4 linked regions of the Homo sapiens genome follow. The protein of the gene in region 3 interacts with the protein of the main gene of each other region in a pairwise test. Each region holds a gene or a part of one and is shown on either strand. Other genes may lie near its edges. The genes, in order: BANK1, CRKL, BLK and JAKMIP1.

Region 1 (7,475 bases), on a different chromosome or scaffold from region 3:
ATTTCTTCTCTTGGATTTTGCTTTTTAATAAACAAAATAAAAAACTAAGACAGTGACAGATTTCATTATTTATTCAAGGTCACAGATGAGACAGGCAATGAAGCTGGGACTAGATCTGAGGCAGTATGAGTCAAAAGACCATCATAAGTAGGGCATAACCACCTACAATACATCCTCAGATAGATATTGCAGAAAAGGTTCCTCTACTGTCCCAAGTGTAACTTTGAATATGCTGATATTTAACCTTGAAATCTTCAGCAATTGCATTTTTCAGAATTATTCCTTATTATGGTGAAGATATCCTGAAAGCACTCCTTGTCTTTAAAATCCTAGCAAAAGTGACCTTATCAGAACATTTCCAGATTGGTCTGAAGAAAGCAAGTTTTTCCAGCCACCAGCATGGAACCAGGTTATTTCCTTAGTGGAACAAGTGTAGGACGTTGGCTATGTTGGAAGATTGCAGTCAAAGCAAAAAGCTTCAAATCTTTAAGAACTTCAAGCTAGAGAGCAGAGACCTAGACAAACCATGTTCCTTACAAGTATAAGCATCCAGCGTAAGGTGAAACAGTCTAAATGCTAATTCCACCCTTTCATGCTTTCTGTTCTTAAGCAAATCATTTATTAAAGTTTCATCAGATGCATCCAATAATATCAATAAAAATTTAAAAAAAACTATGGTGTGGAGAAAAATCTGTGATTTAATAAATAATCACTCCCTAATTAAAACAGCAGTTAAAATTAAATTTTTAAAATCATTAGTTTTGGAATACAACAGGAAGAATCTCTCTTTTGGACATTGATAGTAATATATAGTTAAATACAAACCAGAAAATACATTCTAACTAGAACTTTCACCCATTGTGCATCATTTTTACCTTGTTTTAGAGAACTGGGTATTCTATTTTTCTTGCTTCCATTAAAGAACAAGTCGATACTCAACAGTTAATAAATCTCTGATGGCAGTATACACTAATGTTGTCTAGCAGTACATTCTATCTCCTGCTAGAAATATACCTTCCTGGGCATGAAACTGTGTTTACCATTTTACATTCTTATTACTACTACATGACTCTTGGCAGGGAATAAAAGTTTGTTAAGTTAATGAATGGGTGACCTTCAAATAATTACTAGTTATGAAACCATGAGCAACTCACACTCTGGATCTCAGTGCTCTCTTCTCTAAATGAGGCAGTTGGACCAATTGACCCCCAATGTGCCATATTAAGATAGTTGTTGGAGAGAGAGGGAGCTCTTCATTAAAAAAAAAAAAACACACACACACACACACACACACACACAAACCACTGGATTTATAAAAGCTAGAAGATTACTCATATCAAGAATATGGGCATGGGATAATGTCAAAAGACAATTCGTTTTTAGAAAAGTTTCATTATGTTGGCCAGAAAAGGAAGTAACTGAAGCAAGTGATAAATACTGCATGGAGAAGGACCCAAGGAGTTGGGAGGGGCGGGGCGGGGGGGGAGCGGAATGCATGGGAGGAACAAGAATAATTGGAATGCTATAAATATTGATTCACATTACTCTTGCATTATTCACAATAGCAAGTGCCTCAAAGTATTGCTTAGTATCAAGTGAAATAAAAGGCATTTTCTGCCTAAACTGTTTAATCTAGAAGTTTGAAACAAACTGTACCCCATTCTCTAACAAAATTGTTAAACTGAAATTACAAAAGAGGTAACCTGCTCAAAGTTTGAAAGACATGGTTGGTTTATTTATAGATGCTAGCAAAGTCTGCTCTGCTGAAGACCATCAGAGCCACAGTTTTCAAGAATGTCAATATGCAATAGTTAAAATATTAATAATATTAAGTTATGGGCTCTAAGTCCTTTCTTGTCACTTTTCATTGACACAAATATACTTCTTATTTAACTGAAAGCAATCCCTAAAGCTTATTTATGTAAAAATGCACTAGCCAACAGAAATAGCTACAACCAAAATTACATTACCTAAAAAATTCTAGAAAGGTATGAGAAATTTATTTCTATTCAGCAAATTAAGAAACTTTCACTCAGAATATACTTTCTTGTTGCATTTCTCACCACGAACACTCCAGTAATATTAATACCTAAGTGAAGTTTTTTAATTTAAAAAACATTTTTATATCACTGAGTAATTTGCAAATGCATTTGAAATGCTTCAAAAAGAACTAAATAAAACTGCCTTAACGTCCATTTGAAAATATAAATCTACTTCTGCATTCAACCAAGTTGACCGTTTTCCTTTGACCAAGTTAGTAAAGCCAGTGGAGTAGGGAGGTGGTGTTGGTAGAGTTTCTCTGCAAAGCCACCTGCCAAGAAGCAGGGCTACCAATTCACCAGGCTGGGATTTGTCAGGCCGGGCAGGTAAATGCGTGACGCTACACATGAGCGGTTTTTCTGTGCTTACCGACTGTTGAAAATAATTACGTATAATTTTAAACGCGCATTGCTTTAAAACAGGTTGCAAAGTGATTTTAGAAACTACAGGACCCTGACCCGGGTGCTGGGGAAAGTTCCAGCTCCTCAGAAGTTGCAGACACTGAGGGTAGCCCGCTGGCCAGAACTCCCAGCGCGCTCCCTCCTCGTGGCGTCCAGATGCCCCTCAGAGAAGTCAGGGACAGAAGAACCCTCTGGGCTGCCTGGCGGCAGGATAAAAAGGAGAAGCCCTGTCTCAGGGACGCCCTGGCCTCAGTGCCCGAGTGCAGTTGTCTAACGATGGCCCGTGGTCTCCGCAGAGCCCCGTAGCCCGGCCTCGGCGTCAAGCCCCTCCGAATGCGCGACTACCCACCTGGGGGCGCTGGGCCGCAGGGGGCGGGGTCCGGGCTCCCAAGCCCCTTGCCTGGCGCTGCTGGCAGCATTGTGGCGGTTGAAGCCGAGGGGCCTGCGCACTGCTGCCCGCCGAGCGCTACCTGGACTCTCCCGGCCAGAGACTCCCCGCGATTTTCTCTTCCTTTGGCCCTCGGCTCTCCCCAGCCCGCTTGCCACCCGCGGAGGCTGCGGCCAGGTCTCAGGAAACGCAGCCCCGGGGCTCATGCCCGCAAGGCCAGGGCTCCGCTCTGCTGGGCGCCCAGAGGAAGTGAAACTGCTCAGGGGCCTGCTCTTACATCCCTTCTCAAAAGGCCGCTTTGGTTTCTTATAACACTTCTGCGCCTGTTTCCTTCCTCACCTTTTCATCCTAGGATATATTTAGACCGCTGTTATTGTAGCTCTCCTTGTCCCTTTCTAGGTCTTCCATACTGCCATACTGCCCCCACTTCCAGGCAGACGTAGGGAAACCAGAAGTGAACATTTGCTGGAAAGAAAGAATAATTAGATAGATAGATGAGTAGGTACACAGATGATAGATACATACATATAGAAATGAAGATACAGATAATACTGTAACTTTTAAAATATTTCATTTTACACAGACTTTCTAGGCTAGGTTCATAAATTGAAAAGTGATTTAAAATTCCATATAAAATGTATTTCTTACTCCTGCTCCAACTCAAAAATAGACCCAGTAAAAAATTATTTATGGCTCTAAATACCCTCTCCAAACAAGAGTTTGTTTGCTTGTTTTTAAGATGGAGATATATCAAAGGAGTTGTCCCAGAACCTTAAAGTGAATGTCTCTCTCTCAAGCATGTCTAAACTAGTCATTTGCCTTTTGAAGTTGAATATATTTTTTGAATATCAATTTGGTAATAATACATAGTTTAAATGTTCCTCTCCTCTTCCTATAAAAGGAAGGCTTTCTTTGAAACTTTCTCTCGGATGAAGTGCTTTTTAGTAATAATATAAATATCAAGTATCAAAAAAAGTTAATTTTTTCACATAAATGAACTTATTAGAACTTTATAACATAATGTAGAAAACTTGGAGAAGTATGCGAAATGTCCAAAAAACTTGAAAACAATTATAGATTGTATTGTATTTATCTGGTTTCCAGTAGTTTCTTTAACATCATTATTAATTTTATGTTGATTTTCTGAACTTTATATAATGGAACAAAAGATTTCATCTAACTTATGAAATATTATATTGAAAAAAATGGTTGTCTTCTATATATGCCTGTTAACAGAGAGACTTCAGTGTAATAGGCAAAAACAAATTTGGATTGCAGGGTTTGGGTGTTGTTCAGTGTTTCAGAAACTCAATTCTTAGGAAAGTATGTCTTAAACCCATTGGAGAAAAGAATATTCTAACTGATGCATCTGCTGGTATACGTATTCCTGACAAGAGCTACTTTAGCCAACATGAACACTCCAGATGATGCTCCCCAATTAAGTATCCAGATCTTCAAAGGCACCCATTTATGCACACGAAAACTTGTTAATAAAGACAGTGTTCAGATAGGAACTTGTATCTGTCACATATACAGGACAGCCTTCTTGTATGAAGAGCCCTGGATTGGAAGTCAGAAGGTTGCAGCTGCCATCCTGACTCTGCTCCACAATATCTGGGTGTTTGGAGCAATTCTTAATATTTCTGAGCCTTGCGTATCTCATCTAATTTATTCATTATTAATGAATAAATTAAAATTACTGTATTCGAGTTTCTGCCAGATATAAAATGTTATAACACTGTCTCCTAATAAAACTATAGAAAATAAGATTTATAATATGAAAATTAAGTATATTTTCAGAAGCTCATTTCCACTACTTATGTCAAATGATGCTAGTAAATAGAAAAAAGAAAGTAAAAACTGCTGAAAATTGTGGGCTGTTTTTTTTTTAAAAAAAATAAGATTATGTGTTAGAAAATCTTTAAAATCTCCCATTAAAATTATTCTAGCTTCACTTTTCTTTTGAATAAGAAAATAGCCATTGACTACCCCATTGACTGACTTATTTATTCTTTTGTTTTACTGTTTGCAGTCAACAACTACTCTTTTTTTAAGTATTCTATATCCTATGTTCTATGTAAGAGTTTCACAATATTCATGTCATTTGGTTCTCAAAACAAGGAAGGTTTAACCATATTTTACAAATGAAGAATCTGGGCGTTGAAAACTGTAAGTGGCAGAGCTGGAATTCAATCCTAGATCTGATTTCATAGCCTGCCCTCTTAATTATAACTGCCCCCCTCCCCACCGCTTCCTTTTAAGGTCACATAAGGCCCTTGCTAAAGATTACATGAACATAATAGGATAGGTTATACATATATGTGTTGAAAACGTTTTTTGTTTCCCTATCCACTTTTCCACAGAACTATAAGCCCATACAATTAAATACTAATATCCTTAAAAATAGGTATGAACTGTACTTATAATTTATTACAATTTTGGTGCTATTTGGTTGAGGATATATAGATGTTCACACACGCGCACACACACACATACACGTGATAACTTAAGTCTACATGTTTTCATACTTTGCTGATGCATTTATAAAAATATATTTTAAAAGATTTTTTACTCATTTTGGTCTTGTTTCTGTGTCAAGTACGTCTTTAATCACAGTTGACTTTATTTTTCCCCTGCTTTCTCCCTTAAGGAGATGATACCATCTGGAATGTTGGGTTATCTCTTGGTTCATACTTGTTCTCAGGAAAGAGGCACTTAGCAATTCTCACACCGAGAGGCTTTTTCAGGCAAAATACCACCAGCAGTGTGTAATCGCAGGTTTCTGATTTTACCTCTGTTACAGAATGACAAGAAAATGCTAGTCACAGTAGGTTTCTCATTTCTCAATATATCAAACTCTTGGATCCATTGACTTCTTCCCTTGCATTATTTTTTTTAGCGGCATATTGACAGCCTCAATATTATTACCCCACTCTGTGAAGATTATAAAAGCCTCACACTGGCCCTGTGTTCCAATAAATGGACAGCTAAAGCTGTTTGGTGTTGCCCTGCAGTTGCCATGGCTGATTTCTTGTGTCCTTTGCAGACCAGATGCTGTTGTGCATGCTAATGGCTTTATTTCTGCCTTTAGATTCTGGATATGTTTAAAGAACAAAACTGGTTCTTTTCTAAAGCAGTAATCTATTGTAAAAGTGAAATAGTTGCTTCTTCATGGCTATTTGTTAATTGGGGAATATTCCTCTTGACAATCATGTCTGGATTTTTAGACATTGAATTATATTATTCCCCCAGGGTGTTAACTACACTTCTTATTTACTCCCTCAAAACTAAACCAAATACCAGGGATGTCTGAAGGAATTTTTAGCAATTTTTTTTTGTCATTACTGGGAGGCTTTATTTTCTTTTGCTTCCTCACATTTAATTGAATTCTTTAATACTAATCTGTGTAGCAACCCCCCAAAGAGGTCCACATTCTCATCTGCAGAACCTGTGTATATATGTATTTACCTGGAAGGTGGAATTAAATTAAGGATCTTGAGATGGGAAGATTATCTTGGATTATCCAGGTGGGCCCAGTGTAATCACAAGAGTCTTTATAAGATGGGGGCAGAAAAGTGAAAGTTAGAGAGGAGGTGTGATGAGAAAACAGAGATTGGAGGAATATGCTTAGAATATGGAGGAAGGGGCCACAAGCCAAGGAATACAGGTAGCCTAAAGGCAAAGAAATGAATTCTCCTGCAGAGCCTACAGAAGGAACCAGCCCTGTTGACATCTTGGCTTTTAGCCAAGTGAGACTGATTTTGGACTTATTACATCTATAATTCTAATATAATAAATTTAGTTTGCTTTAAGCCACTAAATTGTAGTAATGCGTTGCAGCAGTAGCTAGCTAATACGTTAATTTATGGTGATAGGAAGCTAACACATAATTCACAGTGATGAGTTTGGAGGAAGATTCATTAATAGGGTAAATCTTTGTGCATTCTTCTAACTAAACATACATTAAAGAACATTTAATTCCCTTCACCATTCATGTTCTAAGTCCCCATGGAGCAATATCTCATTGTTAATTGGTGATTGTGGTAGCTATTTGATATTCCTTCCTGCATGGCTGTTTGCATTATATACTTGCTTTTGTTCTCTAGTGATTGTATAAATGTGCTGATTCTTCTCTTTTCAAGTATATTGAGTCTGACTTGTAGAAGTAAGCAGGTTTTCTGCTTATACCATAGCACACACCACCACCACTGCCCCTCCAGTTAGACTCCTGGCTGTGCTAACAAGCAACAGTGAGTTTGCTGGAAGGAACCTTGCTCCGTAGATCTGACTTTTTTTTTTTTTTTTTTTTTTTTTTTTGAGGCGGAGTCTCGCTCTGTAGCCCAGGCTGGAGTGCAGTGGCGCAATCTCGGCTCACTGCAAGCTCTGCCTCCCGGGTTCAGGTCATTCTCGTGCTTCAGCCTCCCAAGTAGCTGGGACTACAGGCGCCCGCCACCATGCCCGGCTAATTTTTTGTATGTTTAGTAGAGACGGGGTTTCACCGTGTTAGCCAGGATGGTCTCGATCTGCTGATCTCGTGATCCACCCGCCTCGGCCTCCCAAAGTGCTAGGATTACAAGCGTGAGCCACCGCGCCCGGCCTAGATCTGACTTTTAACAGACAATACTATAAAACACTTGAATGTCAAG
Region 2 (5,867 bases), on a different chromosome or scaffold from region 3:
CCAATCCACTTGGAGGTCTCCCAAAGTTCATCAGGAGAACCACCTACAGCCAAGAACAGAAAAGGATTCAAGAAAGCCGCACAGATATCATGCCCTGACCTGCAATGAGGCTGCTCACTTCCCATGACTTCTGCTTGATACCATTCAACCCTGGTTAGCTCATGCTGAAGAAATATTTACTAGAAGCCTCAGATATGGGTGCCTAGAAGGAAAAAGATCCAAGTTCTCTGTGGTGGTGCAACCTGTGGGAACTATTGCCTCATGCTCAGAAGGCCAAGCACTAGGCTCCCATACAATACCTACAAGACAGACACTCTGGGAGGCAGATTTCTCTTTTGGAGGGAGACCCCAGGTGCTCTCCTCTGGGTGCCCGAGTGTTGGAATGGGCGGATGCCAAGACTTCATTCTAGCTCTTGGTCAGCAGCAGCACTAAGGGTCTCTGAGAAGCATCAGAGATTTCACCACTGATGAACTGCCAGGAGGCTAGTGGGGGCGGACTGAGGAGACACTGAAACACCGAAGCTGCCGCCACCACCGGCTGATGCAAGTTTTATTGAGACAATATACAAACAGGCCATGGAAACAAGGGTTTTGATGCTGGGACCAGTAACGTAAAACGGAATACAAAAATAAAAAGGCACTAATCTGTTAAGAAAAGACACTCGATGTATTCTAAGAATATAAGTCATTTAATACTGTTAATTTTATAGCACAAAATAAAACAAGCTATGATCCCCAAAAATAATTTTAAAAGCTTACACAGAAAATATTATTGCCTGAAGTTTATGATCTTTAAGTTACAGGTCAAAAGAGTTTTATGTTGTTGTTGTTGTTGTTGTTGTTGTTTTAAAACACACAGTGAAGACCGTCTAAGAAGCAAGGCCACTGTTCCTCCTGTAGGGACAACGATCCTGTCTCAGAGACCTGTCCTTCTGCTCCTTTAGAAAACAGAACCAGCACAGCGTCCACACCGACAGCAGTTACTAGGGGCATAGTCCTCCGGTCGCAGAGGGTGGAGTTGAGGCAGAGCTCAGTGGTGTCCACAGAAAGCATTAGTCTTAGGTACTGTGTTAAAACAATCAAGAATTCATTCATGTTTAAGAGGTTAATAACCATAATATTAAAGGATTAATTATAAACACCTGGCAAAAAACCACATCATCCCTTTTCAAAAATAAAATGTTCATATTCCTCTGAGCAAACATCACAAGAGCAGTGGCCATCTGCCTCAGGCCTGCCTTGTCTGTAAACAGCTGTAAAGGAAAGCTAGCACAGCGCCAGGGACACATGAGCTCCCAGGAGGGCACAGCTGTCCTTCCCTTTCAGCTTTCCAAACATGAGCACAGAAGGTGTCTAGTCTGGGTGACCAAAGTCCTCAAACGGCAGCCGGTCAACACATCGTCTTCCTCGTTAACCATGTCATCAGGTGGTTCCACACAGCACAGACATGGCTGACTCCTGTACCGCAGGTCCTTCCCGGGATACACAAGTTTTTAACCAGTCAATGCCCTCTAGTACGTAATTTGTTTCCTTCCCAGGTGAAAAACCATAGTGAGTTAATTTAACATCCAAATATTTCTTTAAACATGGTAGAGCAGAGCAAGTAGCAGTTATGAACACCCACCCTCTGGGTCAGATGTGCACTGCTCTATGGAGCACAACAGTCTTCCCAGACCAGTGGGGAACCCAGGCACGAAGCTGAGCTGAGGCAGCAGTGCTGCATTCATATGTTTAGTGTGAAAAACAGAGTATCCCTGCCTCATTAAAAAAACTGACAAGGTTGTAAGTCCGTTAAGTTTTACTAGTTTTGGCACATATCTGGAGTGCAGAACTCAAGCTCGCCTTGTTTTGAGCTCTGAATCTCCTGGCAGCCCTGGATGCCATTTTCATGGGCTGAAGTAACGAGCTGATTAATTATAAAACCAAACCACAGGTATACTCTAGGTATATCTGATTCTGAAGTGCGCCACACAAGGTGAGTCGGGGTATTGGTCAGTAGACAGGGCTGAAAGGAAACCTTGCTTTCCAAAATGGCCAGACTTCTTGCACTCTGAGTCAACTGCTGTAATTCAAAGGTGTCAAGCCCTTCAGCTAAATCTGGTTGAAAAAGGCCTAAGGGTCGTGCCCTCCTTGAACAAGGCACACATTCCTCCCTCTGTTGGAAACTCCACTCATGGCTCAACATGGGCCGGGATGAACCACGTCACTGGCCAAAGGGCAAACACTGTTTCTAGGCAGAGTCTGGGGACTCTTGTGATATGTCTGCCACTTGTGGGTGCTACGCCAGGCCTGAACCCAAAATAAGCCAACCTGACACACCTAACCAGAAGCGGCAACTGCCGCAGACCGTGCAGAGCAGGAGGCGGTCACCGTTCTCACTGGCAAGGAAGGGCTAATCTCCAAGGCTTTTAGAGGAAAACCACAGATGGGAAGCCATGGCGATAGTTTTCCCAAATGACCATTAATTCTGTCTCAGGAACACTCTCAAGATTCATGAATACAGCAGTTATCTGCCTGATGGAATACTGATTTAAAGAAAAATTGAAAAATGGCTGTTCTGCTGGTTCTGTCTCCAGAATGCATTGCTCTAAATCTCAAAACCTAGGAACCTCCAGACAGGGCCACAGTCACAGCAGATGATCAGTAAATGAAAGCTACTCAGTAGGCTGCTGCTACATTTCTAGGTCTGCTGTGTTCACTATGAGCTGAGGCTTTTCTTTACCAGGGTCCACAAGGGAGAGCAGACTGAATTGCACAGGGTTCCCAGAATTCTAGTCTGCTATGTGCAGCAGATGATGGATGAACCACACGTATATACCAGTTGGCTTGTATGAACAGGCCTCTTTTAGCTAACAGGGAAATGCTTTAACATCAATACACTGATAAGTGGTTAATGATAAACTAGTTAATGGTCTCCCTAGTCACTAAAACACTAAGACATCAAATACATTAACGAATTTCCAGAGCTTGCATTTCCTTTGCTTGGGAGCATCACAGACACTTACTTAGACTGTGAGACCAGTATGAGCAGCACCAACTTTCTCTGGCAGCCTGACGAGATTGGGCCTGGGCACGGAGGTCTGGGCTTCAGTGAGTGGAGTTGAACGATTCATTAATGAGTCCAACGATTCTATGAACAACGCCACTTTTTAAGGAAGTTTAAGTCTGAACCTTAAAGGGGTACATTCACTGAAAAGCTGAACAGAAAACTGGCCAAGTGCCCTCCAACCCACTGCTCTTATCACTGGCAAAACAAGGTAAGCAAAGGTTTCCCTAAAGTACCCCCAACTCTGATGCTTTTTAAAACAAAGTAATCCAAGGGGCTGTGCACATAGCATGGCACACCACAACTGCATTATTTTGTGTGTTGTCTGCTACATGGCAAAACAAGGTACTACTGGCAACCAAGACAATAAAGGCCTCTGCTTCAGGGTTGTTCTTTTCAGATTCCTTTAGTTACAGCAGCTTCAGTTTAGAAGCTCAGAGGCATGAGTCATTCCTTGCACTATCATAAAAACCCAACCTGCTACTTAACCTGTTTAGAACACACAAGTCTAGGCCAGGCGCGGCGGCTCACGGCTGTAATCCCAGCACGTTGGGAGGCTGAAGGCGGGTGGATCACCTGAAGTCAGGAGTTTGAGACCAGCCTGGTCAACATGATGAAACCCCGTCTCTACTAAAAATACAAAAATTAGCTGGGCGTGGTGTGCGCGCCTGCAGTCCCAGCTACTTGGGAGGCTGAGGCAGGAGAATCGCTTGAACTCAGGAGGCGGAGACTGCAGGAAGGCGAGATTGCGCCACTGCACTCCAGCCTGGGTGATGCAGCGAGACACCGTCTCAAAAAAACAAAACAAAACAAACAAAACAAAACAAAAAAAAACCCCCACACAAGTCTAATTAATTAGTTTTCCAAAACCAAACCAAAACAAAAGAAAAAAAAAAGCCAGATTTTGGAGTTTTAGAACAGAATTCTCTCTTCCTTAAGGTTCACTTCCTGTTGTCCAAAGAAAAGCAAGATGGCAGCTAAGCCACTGCTTTGTGGAACAGCAAACATGCAGTATCTCGCCATGGCCTCAAGCTTTCTCTGGTGAACACAACAGAATCAGTCCCATGTACAAACGGGCAGCAATGAGAAGGAAGACCCTTTCCATGTCAACTTCTCTCCACTTGTGTGCTTCCATCAGTATTTCCAGTTTATGATCCAAAAGAACTCTAAAATCGGCTACTCTTTGACAATACGACTATGATACAAACATCAGGAGGCAGCCGCTGTGTGCATTCCAAATGTGTGTGCGACTGCCAGTCTGCAGAAAGCTGGACTTCGGCAATGCAGTGTGACTTGCCTATGAGAGAAAATGCTTTCCCACTTCAAAGGAGACTAGGACAGGCAGAACAACAAAGCAGCAGGAAACAGGGCAACAGCAATCACTCGTTTTCATCTGGGTTTTGAGGGTCAAAGATTTTGACGTGCGTAAAGGGGAAAAGCCCTTTGCGCCCGTTCACTTCGCCTTCCCACTGGCCATTTATATTCATCCTTGTGACTTTCACGATGTCACCAACCTGTATGGATGAAGAAGACAAAGTTAGCATTTCTCTGCAACAAGAAAAAGACAGTTTACATTAAATCACAAACACTACCTTATCCAAAGGGCCCATACATTATTATTTAGACACAGGGTCTCACTCTGTTAGCCATGCTGGAGTGTAGTGGTGAGATCCCTGCTCAATGTAACCTCTAACGCCTGGGCTCAAGTGATCCTTCCACCTCCACCTCTTGAATAGCTGTGACTACAGGCGTGCACCACCATGCACATTATTTTTTAATTTTTTATAGACGGGGTCTGTCGCCCAGGCTGGAATGCAGTGGCCCGATTACAGCTCATTGTAACCTTGAACTCCTGGGATTACTTGAGGTCAGGAGTTCGAGACCAGCCTGGGCAACATGGTGAAACCTCATCTCTTCTAAAAAATAGAAAAATTAGCCGGGTGTGGTGGTACATGACTGCAGTCCCAACTACTCAGGAGGCTGAAGTGAGAGGATGGCTTGAGCCCATGAGGCTGAGGCTGCAGTGAGCCGTGATAGTGCCACGGCACCCCAGACTGGGCAACCGAGTGAGACCCTGTCTCAAAAAAACAAAAATCAAAACACACACACACACAGAAACAGCTTTTGAGCACAAAGCAGCTCCCCACCCCACACCAACCTTCTATTTTGGCCACTAACCCCAACAGGATAGAAATGAACACATGATTCTGAGAATGGTTAAAGTCAAATTACACAAAAAGGTGTATTTTAAAAAAAGACCTTCAGGTGGTAGTCATTGTAGACAGGGTGTTACTCTGTTCAGCAGAGCACTAATCTAAGGTTCTGTATTGTGTACTTAGGTCCATAAAAACGCTACTTGAATATAAGACCCACCTAAGATCTAAGACAATAAGAAATAAGCTTTTGTCTGCTTAAACACATATAGAACCAGGCATCGTGGTACATGCCTCTAGTTCCAGGTCCTTGGCAGACTGAGGTGGGAGGACTGCTTGAGCCCAGGAGTTTGAGACCAGCCGGCGCAACGCAGCAAGACTACATCTCAAAATAAAAACAGGCATAAGGTTTTTATGGCACAGTCCAATGGTCCGTGCCATGAACTTTGGAGCATGCAGGACACCAAACAAATGTCCTGGTTCTGCCACTTTTAGAAACTACATGACTGTAGCAAACTGCTTAAGTTCTCCAAGTCTCAGTTTCCTTCCAACTTTGAAAGGTTCTTGCAGTAATTAAATGATTGTTACTTGAGTAGAGATTCCTGAATAGAACCCATCCCCCAACCCCACGCCCCCTCTAATGATCATACCCTTTGGATGCACGAAGG
Region 3 (7,026 bases):
ATGCATCCATCCATCCATGCATCCATCCATCCACCCACCCATCCATCCATCAACACATCCATGCATCCATCCATGTATCCATCCATCCATCCATCTATGCATCCTTCCATGTATCCATCCATCCATGGATCCATCCATCCATCCACCCACCCACCCACCCATCCATCCATCCACCCATTCATCCATCCATGCATGCATCCATCCATCCATCCATCCATCCATCCATCCATGCATCCATCCATCCACCCACCCACCCACCCACCCACCCACCCACGCATCCACCCATCCATGCATCCATCCATCCCCTTGCTACACCATGCAATCAATACTCATTTACTAATATGGGACTGTGGGGAATATAAAACTGAGTACTAAATATATCTGGGCAGCATCTAACAGTACTCGTTCTGATAACTAATATTTATTGAACAGTACCAGAAATATATTTTAAAAAATGTTGAGTAGGGCCCAGATCTGCTTTCAAGAAGAAGCTGCCCAGATCTGCTGAGCAAGAACAGTGCTTCCGGGAACACCTGAGCTAAGGGCTCTCTGGCAGTTTCTTGTCCAGGGAAACCTTCATAGAAATGACATTACGCTTGAGCCATGGATGATGATAAGGATTCTGCCAGGTGGGAAGTGTTCAAGGCTTCCTGGGCAGAGGAGGTAGAGGGGTGGCGAGGCATGGGGCATGGGAACCGGTGGCATCTGGCTGCAAAGTGGGGCCCGAGGGATTGTGATTGCAGGGTTCCTGTGGGGTTGGCCAGATCTGGCCTTGGAAGAAAGGTCTGGCGAGACTTTGCATGGCTTCCTATGGAGTAAGAAAAGAAGAGCCCAGAAGGGCCGGGTGTGTGTCTGCTCATGTGTGTGTAAGTTTGCGTGTTTGTGTGTGTGTTTGTGTGTGTGAGTTTGTGAGTTTGTGTAAATGTGTTTGTGTGAGTTTGTGTTTGAGTCTGAGTCTGTGTATTTGTGTGTCTGTGTGAGTTTGTGTGTGTGAGTCTGTGTGTCTGTGTGTGTGTCTGTCTGTGTGTGAGTTTGCGTGTCTGTGTGAGTCTGTGTATGTGTTTGTGTTTGTCCGTGTGTGTGTGAGTCTGTGTTTTTATGTGTGTGAGAGTGTGTGTGTGTACATGTGTGCTTAGAGAGCCATTGGCATGGTCAGCATGTGGTTAGAGGCTGCCCTTCTGGGAAGTTCTGATTTTCTGGCTCCTCACCCCCGATTCTGTGGCTACATCCAGGTATTAAACTCCGATGGCTTTTCACATCCTTTGCCCCTGGGTCACACGAGATTTCCCAAGGGGGTGTAGTGGGGATTGAATAGGAGACAGCGGAGGGTGAGAGAAGGAAGGGGAAAGGAAGCAGCAGCAGTGGGCAGGCTTATCACTGCCCTGGGGTTTGAAGCCGGTTACCAGCACTCATTTTCCAAAACCAGCCTGCCCAGATGGCTGTCTGCCCACCTCAGCGGAAAAAGGCGTTGTGGCATCAGTTCCTGCAGCGGCGCTACTGGGTAAGGCTGGGCGAGGGGCGAGGTGGGAGGGCTGATGTGGGCGGTGGGTGGGAGCGTTTCCTCTCGGTGGCAGCTGTATGTGTGTGTGTATGTGTACGCACGTGTGTGCCTCACAGGCTGACCACAGACCAAAACTTTTCTGCTGAGAGTTCCAGTTTTAACAGGGCCACCAGATGTGCTTCCTGCCAGCTAGAGCTCTCGGCTAAAACCCTCCTCTCCACTCTGCTCTTCACCCCATGGAGTCCAGAAAGTTCTGCATGTGAACGTGAGGGACACTGAGGACCAGTCCTGGGTAGCCAAGGAGGTCCAGCACTCGCAATTCCCTGGTGGCAGAAGGTGGGGCTGTCCTCCAGGGCTCAGAGAAGTCATGTCCCTGGCATCTGTGTGTAGCTCAGGCCTGCCCATCAGCCTGGGGTCGACGCCAGGGCTGTGCAAAGGCTGAGGGCCCCTGGGATGGGAAGTCCTACAGGAGATGTTTGTGGGCACCATCTAAGGAAGAGATGAGGTCACAACAGAACACACTTGCCTGCCGGGTTCAATGGAACTCTTGCTAACTCTGTGTGTTTCCCATGACATTCATTCGCCCTCTCTTCCTTCGGAACAGAATAGCCTCATTCCAACACAGCAGCCCGGGTCTAAGGCTCCATTCCCTGGGCTCCCTCACAGCTGCGTGGGGCAGGAGGCACAGTGGCCAGGGTTTGCAAGTCCAAGTGCAGTGGGTGACCTTGGGGATATCTGCCTAGAGGAAGGTGGCCTTCAGTACCCCCTGACTTCTCCTGCTGGCTGAGAGGATGGGGTGGTAAGGCACGAGCAGCCATTGTGGGCAGCAGGTGGCACATGCCGCCCTTTCTCTGCACCTGGTACTTCACCAACCTGCGCCGACATGTCAATCAGCCTTGGGAGTGACAATCTGCTCCCTTCATCTGTCTTCAGGAAATCCAGCAGGCATCCTAAGAAAAGAGAAGTTGCAAGTGCCCTTCTGCAAAGTGACCCGCCCCTGGTGGTGCCAGCCTCTCTCTGGTGTGAGTGGCTCCCCATGGGCGCGGGAAGTGGGAGTTTGCACCCTCAGATCTCTCGGTGCATCAGGAAGGATCTACCTACTGCTGCCGAGTGCCTTCCACTTTACAAAATGCCAGTCTCAGCACCCCGGGAGGCAGCCAATATACCAGCAGTTGCCCAGAAGTTAGGTTTCAGCCAGGTGCAGGGACCTGTCTGAAGTCACCCAGCCGGGAGCTGGGAGTGGGACCCCAGTTCTGACTCGAAGTTTCATGCCCCTTCTTGTCTTTCCCCCCGTGTTGGCCTCGCTCCCTTGATCCCTGCTGGCAGACACCCTCTGCCTCTGAGGACCAGGCATCAGCAAGAAAGCACCAGAATGGAGAGAACTGTCCCCCAGGTTTGGTGCAGGGGACAAATGCAGCTCCCCCTGGAATCAGAAAGCTGGGAGGGATGGATGCTTGCCCTAGGGGCAGGCTAGAGGCACCCCCAGCACAGCCTCCGACCGGGGGCCCCTTGGTGACAGTTGTTAGGGAGCTATATCAACATGGGCATGTTAGGATCCTATAGGAGCAGTGTGCGGTCAGGGTCATAGGAGGGTGAGAAAGTGGCATGAGAACTTGGCCACGCCGTGGACCTCAGAGGCCATCAAGCCCAACCTCTCTGGCCATCCTTGTAAAATATTCACACAGTTGTAAATGGTTGCATGACCAGGAGGCAGGAGACCTGGATCTAGTACTGTCCCTGCATGCCTGGCCTGGTGTTCGTCTGACTTTGCAATGCTCTGTCCCTCCCAGCAGGCATCAAAGAGTGCTAGGCACAGAAGATGCACTCCAGAAATGCTGTCTGAACTGCTCCTGGGCTGAGAACATGGCTCTGTCAGAACCACTTCACCCTCCTGTTTCTCACCCTCCCTCTGTCCCTCCCCCTCCCTCCATCCCTCCCTGTCCCCACACCGTGCCATGCCCTAGATCTGCAGGACCCCCTGGCCTGGTGAACCCACCGCAGCGGACCCTCCTCCTCCTGCTAAGCCCGGCCCTCCCGCCTCGCTCTGAGGATGCGGCTCTGCGGGGGGCACCACCTCTGGCCATGTACTCGGTGACAATGTAGATGGGCTCCTTGGTGACCACTGCGTAGAGTCGGACCAGCCGCTCGTGCTGCAGAGCCTTCATCACGTTGGCCTCACCCAGAAAGGCTTCTGGAGACATGGTTCCCTCCTTCAGCGTCTTAATGGCCACCTTCATGTTGTTTTTGTAGTAACCTGAGCCCGGGGGAGTGAAGAAGCCAATCAGAAGACAGAGAGCTTGCTCGGAGGTGATCCCTTAACCAAAATCGGGGTAAGTGCCCAGGTGCCACCCCATTCCAGGTGCCAGAGCTGGAACATGCAGTTCCGGAGGCCATGGTTGTGTGGTGCCTACCTTGCGTTCCAGGTCCCTTCTATATGGGGCCTCAGGCAGTGGAGGAATGTACCCTGCCTGGGGGGCATTTCACCTATTTGCCCCACACCCTGGGCCTGTGTCCTTCTGTCCTGCACGGAACCTGTGTCCTTCCCCCACCCCTCCCCTACATAATGAGTCTCTTCTATCACACAATAACTCCTTGGTGGAAATAAGCACACAGCCTGGGGTACACTGGGCAGGAGGATGACGCATGGGGGTCTCCTTCCCTCCTTCTGAAGCCCCATGGCGATCCTGTCCCACTCCTTAAACTATCTGTATCTCCACACTCTCCCTGTACTCCATGAAGTCCCCTGAAGGGCAAAAGACAACTCTACTTGCTTTTCTAGAGGACATGGGCCTTGGCAGGGACCTGGGTACAGCTCCTGCCAAAAGCACCGTGGGCATCAGCCCCAGGTAAGGGAGCACTCATGGACCAGCCCCAGGTAAGGGAGGACTCATGGACCAATCCAGGGATAAAACGGAACACGAGTTTTATATCCTGGTGGGCGGGGGGGGGAAGGGGGCAGGTGTCAGCAGCGATGGAAATGTGAGGACACCAGGCCTGGAGCTTCAGTGACTTGGCCAAAGTCCCACGGCTGCCCTCGGTGTGCACTCAGGCTCTGGAACATCATGGCTCATCACGTTTAACCTCCTGTTTCCATCTGGGTGATGAAAAGCTAAGGGGAGTTAACGCGCCGCTGCAGCTCATTGTCAAAGCCAGCTTCAGGCAGAGAACGAAGGAGGGAGCGACTTCGGGGCTGGGTGAGCTGGATTCTGTTCCTGCTCTGCCACCACCATAAGCGGTCCCAGCTGTTACAACGCGGCTCTGCACCTCCACTTCCTCCTCTGTAAAATGAGTGTCCTCGCCTCTGTCCTCGCTCCCTCTCAAGACTTCTGGGGGAGGGATGACACGCTATGAAAATGCTGAACCTGGACTCAGGATGCGGCGCAGGTGGAATGGGGGGAGAAATGCTCCCACGTGTGCACACACTCACCCATCCAGACTTCGCCGAATTGTCCAGACCCGAGTTTCCTGACCAGCCTGAGAGACTGCCGGGGGATCTCCCATTCATCCTGGGCCCAGGGATTCTGCGGGGCCGGGCGCACACAGGGCAGGGTCAGCCTCTGGCATAGACCATCCCCCTTCTCTGCATTAGGGAAGAAAAGACAGGGCTGGGGGTTACCAGAGCAGCCAGGCTCTACCTTGGGAGCTGTATCATTCCTAGCTGGCCCTCCACTCCCCAGCCACCCCACCCCCTGCATGGGTGTGTGCACACGCCTGCACATGCACACACACTCAACTCTTTCTCTTCGTTTGCGCAAAGCAGGGCATGCTATCTCTAAAATCGACCTGCTCACTCTAAGACTGAAAATGCTTGCTACTCTCTAAGGGGTTCCCTGCTGAGCCAGGAGAGGGAATTAGGGCCACCAATTCCCGGTGCTCAGAGTTGCTACCTCCTTAGGCCTAACTTTGGGATAATCTTTCCATCCCCCAAGGTGGCACCAATGACTCACACAATTGGGAATCTTAGCGAGAGATCCAGGGGCTCTTGGCACAAGTCCCTGCCCCCATTGCACGCCCCCTCTTACTAGAATAGTGCTGCACCAGGGCCTGGAGCGAGGGGAAGGTGATCCGGGGGGAGATGTAGTAGCCCCCTTCATCCAGGCAGCGGATCTTATAGTGCTTGATCAGCTCCCCCTGGGTGGTGACATCCTTCACAGACAGGGAGAAGGCACCTGGAGGGTTCATGAAGACACACACGAGAAGTAAGGCACAAAGACAAAAAACGGGACTGGGATTTGGGCCTCATTTTAAAGCTTTGAAAAAAGTTCCCCAATTCTGTTCTTCATTATCAGCACTCCCTCCACAAGTTTCCTTTCCCTGCATCTCAACCTCCATGCTTTTGGAAGCCTCCCCTGTAAGTTCCATCTGACTCTGACCTTGGCATCCCCCCACTATCCTGCAAAACTCAGCCAGGGAATCACAGAGCCCTGCGGCAGGCAGCACAGTTTCTCAGCAATCATGTAGGTCCCCACTTGGGCATCTGGTCACTCGGGGACCCTTTGTCATGGACTATTGAGAAATCTAGTCTCGTTGGAGTGACTAGGGGCTTTATTTTCTGGCTAAAGAGGGTATCTCTTACTCCTACAAGCAGATAGCCATTCACAGCTGCAAGTACCCATGTCCATGGCGGACACCGTAATAAGCTATGCCCAGGGGCTCTGTTCAAAGTCATTTGCTGCCTGTTACATACACCTGTTATTTTGTCTTCTAGGTTAATGTTTTCCCGCAGGCAAGTGGTAGCAGATGTCAAGGGTTAAGGACAATTTAGGAGGTAAGAATTTCCAGGTAAGAAACGCTTTTCCATGAACTTGATGTTTTTATAAAATGCGTCTGTCCAGCTACTTGGGTACCATGACCTTACCCCGCCCCTTACCCATTATTTGGGAGATGAGGACGCTGGGGCCCAGCAGAGTTCGCGGCAGGCTGGGGGGCTCCCGGTTCCCCGAGTCCGCGCCTACCTCGAGCAGTACCACGCCTCCCCGCCAGGGGTCAGGCACGGACCCCTCGTTCTCGTTGTGGACGCTTGGTTTTCCGCGGTCCTGTTTGACTTAAGGCTCTTTCCTCTCCTGTCAGTTCCCCTGCCTCAACCCCCTTCCATCCTCCAGTTTCCCTCAGCCAATGTGCCTCTCTCATCACCTACTTGCAAAAGGACACCCAGAGGCGTACGCCATGCTGTTGCCACAGCCCCTCCACACCCCCACCCCAGCCTCAGCCCAGAGGCTGCAAACTGTCTCCCCGACCCTGCCCGGGTGCAGCTGTGCCCCCAGTCTCTAAGGAACCCGAGCCTGGCCTTAGGGAGTTCATTCATCAAGGGCTTTTCTCTCCATTTTGTAGGCTGCACTTGTGTCGGGTGCCTCGGGCGATGAGCCCAGGAGCCCGCTCTCCACGCAGTGACGCTTCCCAAGCTGGTGCTTTAGACCCCTCACTTGCCTGGCTGCTCTGAGGCCCCGTCCCTGATGGCTTCTGACAATTTGGTGTCCTTTGTAAAGACGACCTCAGATCCTATCAGCTTCAGTTTCACAAAACCT
Region 4 (7,482 bases), on a different chromosome or scaffold from region 3:
TACCCAAGATCACACAATGACAAGGGATAAACTACAGGCAAGTCCAACTTCAGAAGCCCTGCAGGTTGATCCCGTCGCCACTATGGGGAGAGGAGTGACCCAGCAGAACTGGGACACACTGCAGTCATCCTCAGACTCCCCAAGGGAAGCCCCCATTTAGTTAGAAAGCCCAGCAGGGAGGCACTTGCCCAGTCACAGCTAAGTGAGGCAGGGCCTGAATGGGAACCCTGGCAGTCTGGCTCAGAGCCTGAAGAGACACAAGGTCCCACCCTCGAGGAGTTAAACAGATAGCCATAGCCTGCAGTGGCAATTGCTGCTGGCTTAAGCATTAGAAATTGTTCCCTCTGCCACTTGTCCCACAGCCCAATCCACCCTTACACACCAAGAGAGTGGGGCCACGGTCCTGCCACTTCCTCGTGCAGCCTTCCTGGCCGGGCCGCCTGTCCCCATCTCTCCCTGCACATGACTCTCTGACAGCACGGGCAGTGTCTGTGTGGTCACCTCCCCAGGAAAACAGAGCCCCCACCAAAGTGGGACCATCTCTCAGGCCACCTCACTGTGTCCCGTGTCCCCAGTCTCTAGTGGGCAAGATCTGCTTAAGGAAAAACTACACAAACAAATATCACACTGTATGTGTATAAAAAGTTCTGAGAACACAAATGAGAGAAGCACACAATCTTTCCGGCAGAGTCTGGGAAAATCACACTGATGGAACCTGAGAGCTGGGCTTAATCATGAATCGTTCTCCACATACTCAAGGGAGGGGAGCATTGTTTTAGACGGGGGGAAAAAGAAGCATGTGGGGGAAAAACCCAAGTGTGAAGACATGTCTACGCAACACAGAGGCAGCAGGCGTGGCTGAGACATTGTGGCAGGGAGAGGGGAGAGATGGGCTGGGGAAGCCAGGATGTGAGGAACTGGTGAGGTCGTGGGGGCGGTGGGAGTCATGGGTGGTTTGTGAAGGAGGAAAATGCCAGTCATCTCATGCATTGGGTCCACACTGTGAGCCTTTGGGAGCTGCTTACTGCAAAAAGACTACAGATAAGAATTACCCCAGACTCCAGAGCAGAGATGTTCAGCATTACAGACCGGTACACACCTCAACAGCAACAAAAATCTTGCAACAAGCCACAAGCCTCCACTGTGCGCTACAACATCAGTCTCTGCAGAGCTGCAGGTCTCCAGGAGGGTGGAAATGCCCTGCTAGGAAAGGATTCTAATTCCCCCACTCTATCCCCGAATGTGTCCCTCCTCCTTGCCCATCCCAGCTAGTGGAGCCACCACCCACCAGCCCAGGGTGCTACAGGAAGGGCCAGCTCCTCCCATGGCCTCGCCCTCCACACCAGCGGGTTACTCTGACTTAGGGGGGATGGCCCTGCTATGCCCAACATTCACTGTGGGTGGAGCCCTGGGAGAGGGGCTGAGGCTGCCCCTGCCCTCCTCCCCACCTCCTCCTCTGCTCTGGAAGGCAGAGGCCATCAGATGGTAACAGCATCCTGGGACAGCGCCACGTTCCAGGAAAGCTCAGGAGGGGCAAGGGGATCTCCCTGACTACAAGGAGCTGGCCAGCTGAAGTTAGGGCGTTCGCGGAGAGAGCACAGCACTGGCAAAGGCCAAGGACAGTGTGCCTGCGAGTGTGCGCAGATGGGGCGGGCGGCGGAGGAGGGCTGGCGGTTAGATACAGTATCGCTGGAGCTCAGAGAGCCGGGCAGAGGCTGGCGGAGAGCCGAGGCTGGCCCAGCCTTCAGGAGACCGGCGAGCTGGGGTGTGTGGGAGCGGGATGCTTCTAAGGCGAAAAGAAGCGCCAGCCTCGTAAGCGGCCTCTATCTGGGCTGCCCAGGCCGGATGCTCAGGAGCCCACAGCAGGGGGGATGGAGCGAAGGACCGAGGGGCTGGGAGGCGAGGCCGCAGCGCACTGACGCAGGCCAGCGAGGCCGCTGGCCCCGACGCAGGGCGCCCGGCAAGGTGTCTGGCACCACGAGAGTCAATCCTTGCGCGCCATCTCCGGAGGCCAGTGCGCCCAGGGCGCGCCGGCCCGGCAGGAGGGTGGGTGCCAGCCTTTCTTCCCATCTCTCGAGCCTCCTCCCCGGCGCCCACGTGGGCGGAGCAGCGCGAGGGTGTGCGTGGCAGGGGCCGCGGCGGCGTGTGCCGTGCGTGGGGTGGGGTGCGGGCTGGGCGGCCTCGCCTTCGGGCCCCGCGCCGCCGGGGCGCGGCCCCCAGCTCCATCTTCTTTGCCACCTGGGCGGAGATCTGGGGGACTGTGACCTACCCTGCGGAAGACACGGAGGGGACGGGCCGGCCACACCCCCCGCGCCACTCCGGCAGGCACCGGGTGGGTCCCCCTCCCGCTCCTTGGCTTGAGGGCGGAATCCGGAGAAGAGTGGAAATAGGGGTGGCGTGAAGGAGAGCTGGGGGCTGGGGGCGGGACCGGGAGGGGGTGTTGGGGGAAGCGACGCAGCGGCTGGGAGATTTTGCAAGGGGGTCTGAAGAGGAGTGGGGGATGGGTATGGAAGGGTGGGGGACCACTGAGGTGGGATGCGAGAGTGGAAGGGGGACCCAGAGGGGGCGCGATGGCCGGAGGAGGGGGAGATGGACGATGGGGCGGGGCGGCACCGGTCGCCGCGTCCCTTGCCGCCAGGTCCGCCCCTCGGTCGCCGGGTCCACGGGTTCCCTCTGGCCAGCGCTCGCCTCCCGCCCCCCGGCGCACCTGTACCCACCTGCTCGGCGCTCAGGCCCGAGCCGGGCAGCAGCAGCGGACGTAGCGAGCGCAGCCCCGCGCCGCATCCTCCGGCCGCCCCCTCCCCGCTGCGAGCTTACGCCGCTGTCGCCGCCGCCACCGCCTTAAAAAGGACAAAACGGAACAGAAAATGAATGCATGCACAAAAAAAATCGTAAAAAGCAATTGAGGAGGATGGCAGTCGCGCGCGCGGCTCGGCGGGGCGGGAGTCGAGAGGCCGCGGCACTGGTGGCCGCGATCCGGGCAGGCGGCCGGCGCGTGCCGCACGCGGGTGGCTGCAGCTCCCTCGGTCGCCCGCGCCCGGCTCAGGCACGGCACCGCCCCTCCCCCCGGGGAGCCCCTCCGATTGGTCTGTCTTCCTGCCAGTCAGGCAGGAGGGCGCGGCGCCCGCCCCGCCCCGCCCCCGCCCCCGCCCCGGGCAGATGCCGGGAGCTCTCCTGCCGCCGTGGGAGGGGGAGCTGAGCTGCCGGAGCGTGCGCACTGGGCCAGCGGGCGGCCGGGGCAGGGCTGGGGTCCCGGCGCTGAGCGCCCCCAGCCGCGCCGGGCAGCCTGGCGCCTCGCTGAGTCGGAGCAACCCCCGGCAGGAGCTTTCAGGCTCTGGTCAAGCCTCGGGACCCGGGAAGCTATCCCTGCCCTCGGGGGCTCGAGCCTGGAGTGGGGCTTGCAGGTAAAGCGGGGCTGGGGCCGTCCTGGCCGTCAGTGGTCAGGAAGACGCAGCGACCCCGGAGATCCATGTCCCCCTCTGTACGCATGAGAGGTCTGAAGGTCAGAGGTTAAAGCGCACGCTAACGGCGGCAGAGCCAGCAAGCGGCAGAGCTGGGCGGATGCCAGCCTAGGGAGCCTCCCCCCACCAGCCCAGGCTGCCCCCAGCAAAGCCACATCAGCAGGTCATAGCCAAATGAAAGATGTGCTGTCGAGCTGAGACTTGGGAGGGGCAGGACTCAGCTGGGCAAACATTCATTCAGTGTCATTAGACAAATATTTATTGAGCACTTGCTGTGTGCCAGGTAGTCACTAAGATGTGGGGACACCACAGTGAACAGCAGAGAGGAAGCGGCTGCCCACCAGAGCTTACTTTCTAGCAAGGAGAAGGCAGGGAAGAGCACCCACCAAAGGGAGCAGCATGGGGGAACACCCTGACTGCTGTGAACGGGACATATTTGAGAATCTGATAAAAGTATCTGGGCCACAGAATGGTGAGAGGGAGTGTGTGGAAGATGGGGGGCGGGGGCACAGAGGGGCAGCACTTGCAAGGTCTTGCAGGCTGGCGAGAGTTTGGAGACTGTCTCACCTGGAAGGTGGTCCCATGGACCATTGTCAGATTGATATTTTTTAAAGTGCATCAGTCAGGATAAGCTATGTTAGCCACAGTAACAACCAAACCCAAATCTCCCTGGTGTGTCTTGCCCACATCATACATCCTGCCTCGGTCAATGGGGCTCTGTTCATCAGAGTGGTTGGGAGCCCAAGCTGCTGGGGCTGTCTGCCAGCCGAGCACCCACATGGTGCAGCAATGTGAATGAAAGGTGACAATTATGCTGGCTTTGAAGGCTTCCTCCCCGAAGGGACTCTCGTCACTTCTGCTCACGTTTCATTGGCCAGAGCAGGTCACATGGCCATGCCTAACTTCAGAAGAGGAGGAAGTGCAGACCTCTAAGGTTCAGGGGGTCAGGAGGAACTAGGATATCTGTGAGCAGATGTGAGACTATCTTTAGCAGATGCCCTGGCTGCCCTTGGGGCATGGGCTGAAGTAGTCAAGAGTGGGGACAAGGAGGCAGTGTGGGGGCCTCCTCCACGCTGATACAGTGAAGTATCAGCGCATCAGAGCAATCTGGGTGCAGAATTGGCAGGACATGCTCACGGCTTGGACGTGGACAGGAGGGAGGGAGGGACAATCAGGGACAATGCCCAGGTATCCTGGGATGAATTGTGTTCCCCCCACCCACCCCCTCAAAAAAAAAAACTCGTATGTTGAAGTGCTCACTCCCAGGACCTCAGAATATGACCTTACTTGGAAATAGGGTCGTTGTAGATGTAATTAGCTAAGATGAGGTCACAATGGAGTAGGTTGGATTCCTAATCCAGTCTGCCTTCTATCCTTATAAAAGGGGGAAATTGGATACAGAGACACAAGCAACGGGAGCATGCCGTGTGAACATGAAGGTAGAGATCAGGTCGAGGCATCAGCTAGCCAAGGAAATGCCAAAGATGGGAGCAAACCCCCGGAAGCCATGAGAGCGGCCTGGGACAGATCCTTCCCCAGGGCTTCATAGGGAGCGTGGACCAGCTGACACCTGATTTCAGACTTCTAGCTTACAGAAGTGAGACAGTGCATTTCTGTTGTTTAAAAAGCCCAGCTGGTGGTACTTCGATACATGTGTGTAGATTAAGGGTTATGTCTGGCTGTGAGTAATCGGGATCACAACTAGACAGCGGCTTAAACAGATTTTTATTCTCTCTTAACAAGAAATGCAAAGGCAAGCTGTTCCTCACTTTATCCTCTCTCACTCCTTCACCCTCAGGATGTAATTTTCTTTTTCAAAATGTCTTCTACGTGGCAAGTTGGCTGCCTCTTCCCAGACATCTCATCACTATTCCAGTCAAGAAGGGGAAGAACAAAAGGCATACCCACACTAGGTCAGCTCCACTTCACCGCTTTCCTGAAAACTCTCCCCAGAGAGCTCTGTTTTATCTCATTGGCTGGGACGGTGTCTCATGGCCAGCCCTGGCTTCAGAGGAGGCTGGGAGTATTGTTATTATTTTTTAAGATGGTGTCTTGCTCTGTTGTCCAGTTTGGAGTGCAATGGCGTGATCTTGGCTCATTGCAACCTCCGCCTCCCGGGTTCAAGTGATTCTCCTGCCTCAGCCTCTCAAGTAGCTGGGATTACAGGCCCACACCACCACACCCAGCTAATTTTTGTATTTTTAGTAGAGATGGAGTTTTGCCATGTTGGCCAAGCTGGTCTCAAACTGCAGACCTCAGGTGATCCACCCACCTTGGCCTCCCAAAATGCTGGAATTACAGGTGTGAGCCACCACGCCCGGCCAAGGATGTTTTTTTTTAATTGAAGGTACATTGCTGCCTGAAACAAAGTCAGGGTTCCATTAGTGAGGAAAAGAAGAAGAATGACTTTTGAACAGGCAACTATTGGTTAGTAGATCCAGGTTTTGTAAAACCTGGAGCCGCTACAGTCCCCCTTAGGAAGAAGAATTTAAAAACCCCAGTACAAGACTTGGTACAAAAATGAAAACTTATTTAGAATAATAACAAATCACAACAAATTTTAAAATATTTTAAGTTGACAAATATCAAAAACGTTGCGAAAACATTATAAAACTAATATAAAATTGTATTAATTGGATACCTGATATCCACCTTTATAATATCTTCTTTTTTTTACATTTTTTGCTTCTTCGTCATTTTTGATTACCTCTTTGGAAGCCAATGATTTTATAATATTTTTCCTGTGGAGAAAATAGATAATTCAGAGTACTCCTATAATGATGGGAACAAATTTTAATGTTGGTTGGAAAACTTTGTCAGCCTCATAACTCATTATTGGTAATCTCAGGTAGTTTTTTGAGATTGTTTTCAAATTTGGAGAAAGGTCTATCATTCTTTCATAAATGAATGCTAACACTTGGAAGAATTCTATTTCTTCCAGGCTTCTTACTGGGATTTTATTAATTTTCATGATGAAAAGCAACTGAACAATTGCAAACCAGAACATGACTCGACTAACACCTCCTAAACCTCAGTGCTGGCGCCCATCACCTGGAGAGGCATAGGAGAAATGCAGATGCCCAGGCTCCTCCACATCCCACTGAATTGAAGCCTCAGAGTAGCAGGGTCTAGGAATCAGCATTTTACTAAATGCCCCAGGTGACTCCTGCTGAGCAGTCCTGGGCTATGCGACACCCCCAGTTGCCTTGTGACTCTGAGGGTCTGCAAATCCAGACCTCTCCTATTGGAAGAATGACATTTTCAACCCTTATGTCTCTTCCTCTGCCCATAGACTCCTGGTGCCAGGCACCATAGCACACATTGCCAGTGCCATGGCAAGGAGGGCACTCCTGGGAGCCATTAGCCTGTTCAGGGAGCAACAACTCGACCCACACAGACTGGCTCAGACCTACATAAACACACCCCACTAAACCCAAACCAAGGCATCCCCAACTCAATCCCCCTTCAGCTACATCCCCAAAATGCCCTTGGCCTCCGCAGCAGCTCCGAAGTGGGAGGAAGCATGATGAGGGCGGCATAGGGAAAGAGACAGAGGGTATTATGGGTTGGATTGTGTCCTCCAGAACTTGAGTGCTGAAGCCCTAACCCCCAGGAGCTCAGAATGTGACTGTATTTGGTGATAGGACCTTTAAAGAGGTCACTGAGCTTAAATGAGGTCTTTAGGGTGGGACCTAATGCAATATGCCTGGTGTCCTTATAAGAAGAGATTAAGACACAGAAGGAAGCCCCTGTGGAGACACAGTGAGAAGATGGCCATCTGCAAGCCAAGGAGAGGGGACTTGGAGGAAACCAACACCTTGGTCTCAGACTTGAAGCCTCCTGAACTGTGAAAAATAAGTTTCTGTTGTTAAAGCTCTTCAGTCTGTGGAACCCTGTCTTGGAAACCCTGGCAGCCAGCTTAGCCAGTTACAGCTAAAATATCTTGCTTTTGGAAAGTATTTCCAAACACAAGGCCACATGAACCCAGAGCTCTGGCTCTCCCAGGCCTTGGAAGGGTCTG

The links.
Region 1: the proteins of BLK (region 3) and BANK1 interact in binary tests that used the Homo sapiens proteins (3 or more experiments, as listed by UniProt).
Region 2: the proteins of BLK (region 3) and CRKL interact in binary tests that used the Homo sapiens proteins (3 or more experiments, as listed by UniProt).
Region 4: the proteins of BLK (region 3) and JAKMIP1 interact in binary tests that used the Homo sapiens proteins (3 or more experiments, as listed by UniProt).

Annotation. Positions count from the first base shown.
Region 1 is NC_000004.12:101,786,266-101,793,740, reverse strand, and holds the start of BANK1 (B-cell scaffold protein with ankyrin repeats), read right to left. Parts: upstream 3,012-7,475; 5' UTR 2,861-3,011; coding exon 2,791-2,860; intron 1-2,790. UniProt on the Homo sapiens protein: Involved in B-cell receptor (BCR)-induced Ca(2+) mobilization from intracellular stores. Promotes Lyn-mediated phosphorylation of IP3 receptors 1 and 2.
Region 2 is NC_000022.11:20,948,404-20,954,270, reverse strand, and holds the end of CRKL (crk-like protein), read right to left. Parts: intron 4,561-5,867; coding exon 4,426-4,560; 3' UTR 524-4,425; downstream 1-523. UniProt on the Homo sapiens protein: May mediate the transduction of intracellular signals.
Region 3 is NC_000008.11:11,553,387-11,560,412, reverse strand, and holds part of BLK (tyrosine-protein kinase Blk), read right to left. Parts: exon of another isoform or gene 6,833-7,026; intron 6,284-6,832; exon of another isoform or gene 6,210-6,283; intron 5,671-6,209; coding exon 5,524-5,670; intron 5,082-5,523; coding exon 4,929-5,081; intron 4,828-4,928; coding exon of another isoform or gene 4,562-4,827; exon of another isoform or gene 4,551-4,561; intron 4,348-4,550; exon of another isoform or gene 3,756-4,347; coding exon 3,576-3,755; coding exon of another isoform or gene 3,498-3,575; intron 2,524-3,497; exon of another isoform or gene 2,452-2,523; coding exon 2,375-2,451; exon of another isoform or gene 2,148-2,374; intron 1-2,147. UniProt on the Homo sapiens protein: Non-receptor tyrosine kinase involved in B-lymphocyte development, differentiation and signaling. B-cell receptor (BCR) signaling requires a tight regulation of several protein tyrosine kinases and phosphatases, and associated coreceptors.
Region 4 is NC_000004.12:6,197,536-6,205,017, forward strand, and holds the start of JAKMIP1 (janus kinase and microtubule-interacting protein 1), read right to left. Parts: upstream 3,015-7,482; 5' UTR 2,718-3,014; intron 1-2,717. UniProt on the Homo sapiens protein: Associates with microtubules and may play a role in the microtubule-dependent transport of the GABA-B receptor. May play a role in JAK1 signaling and regulate microtubule cytoskeleton rearrangements.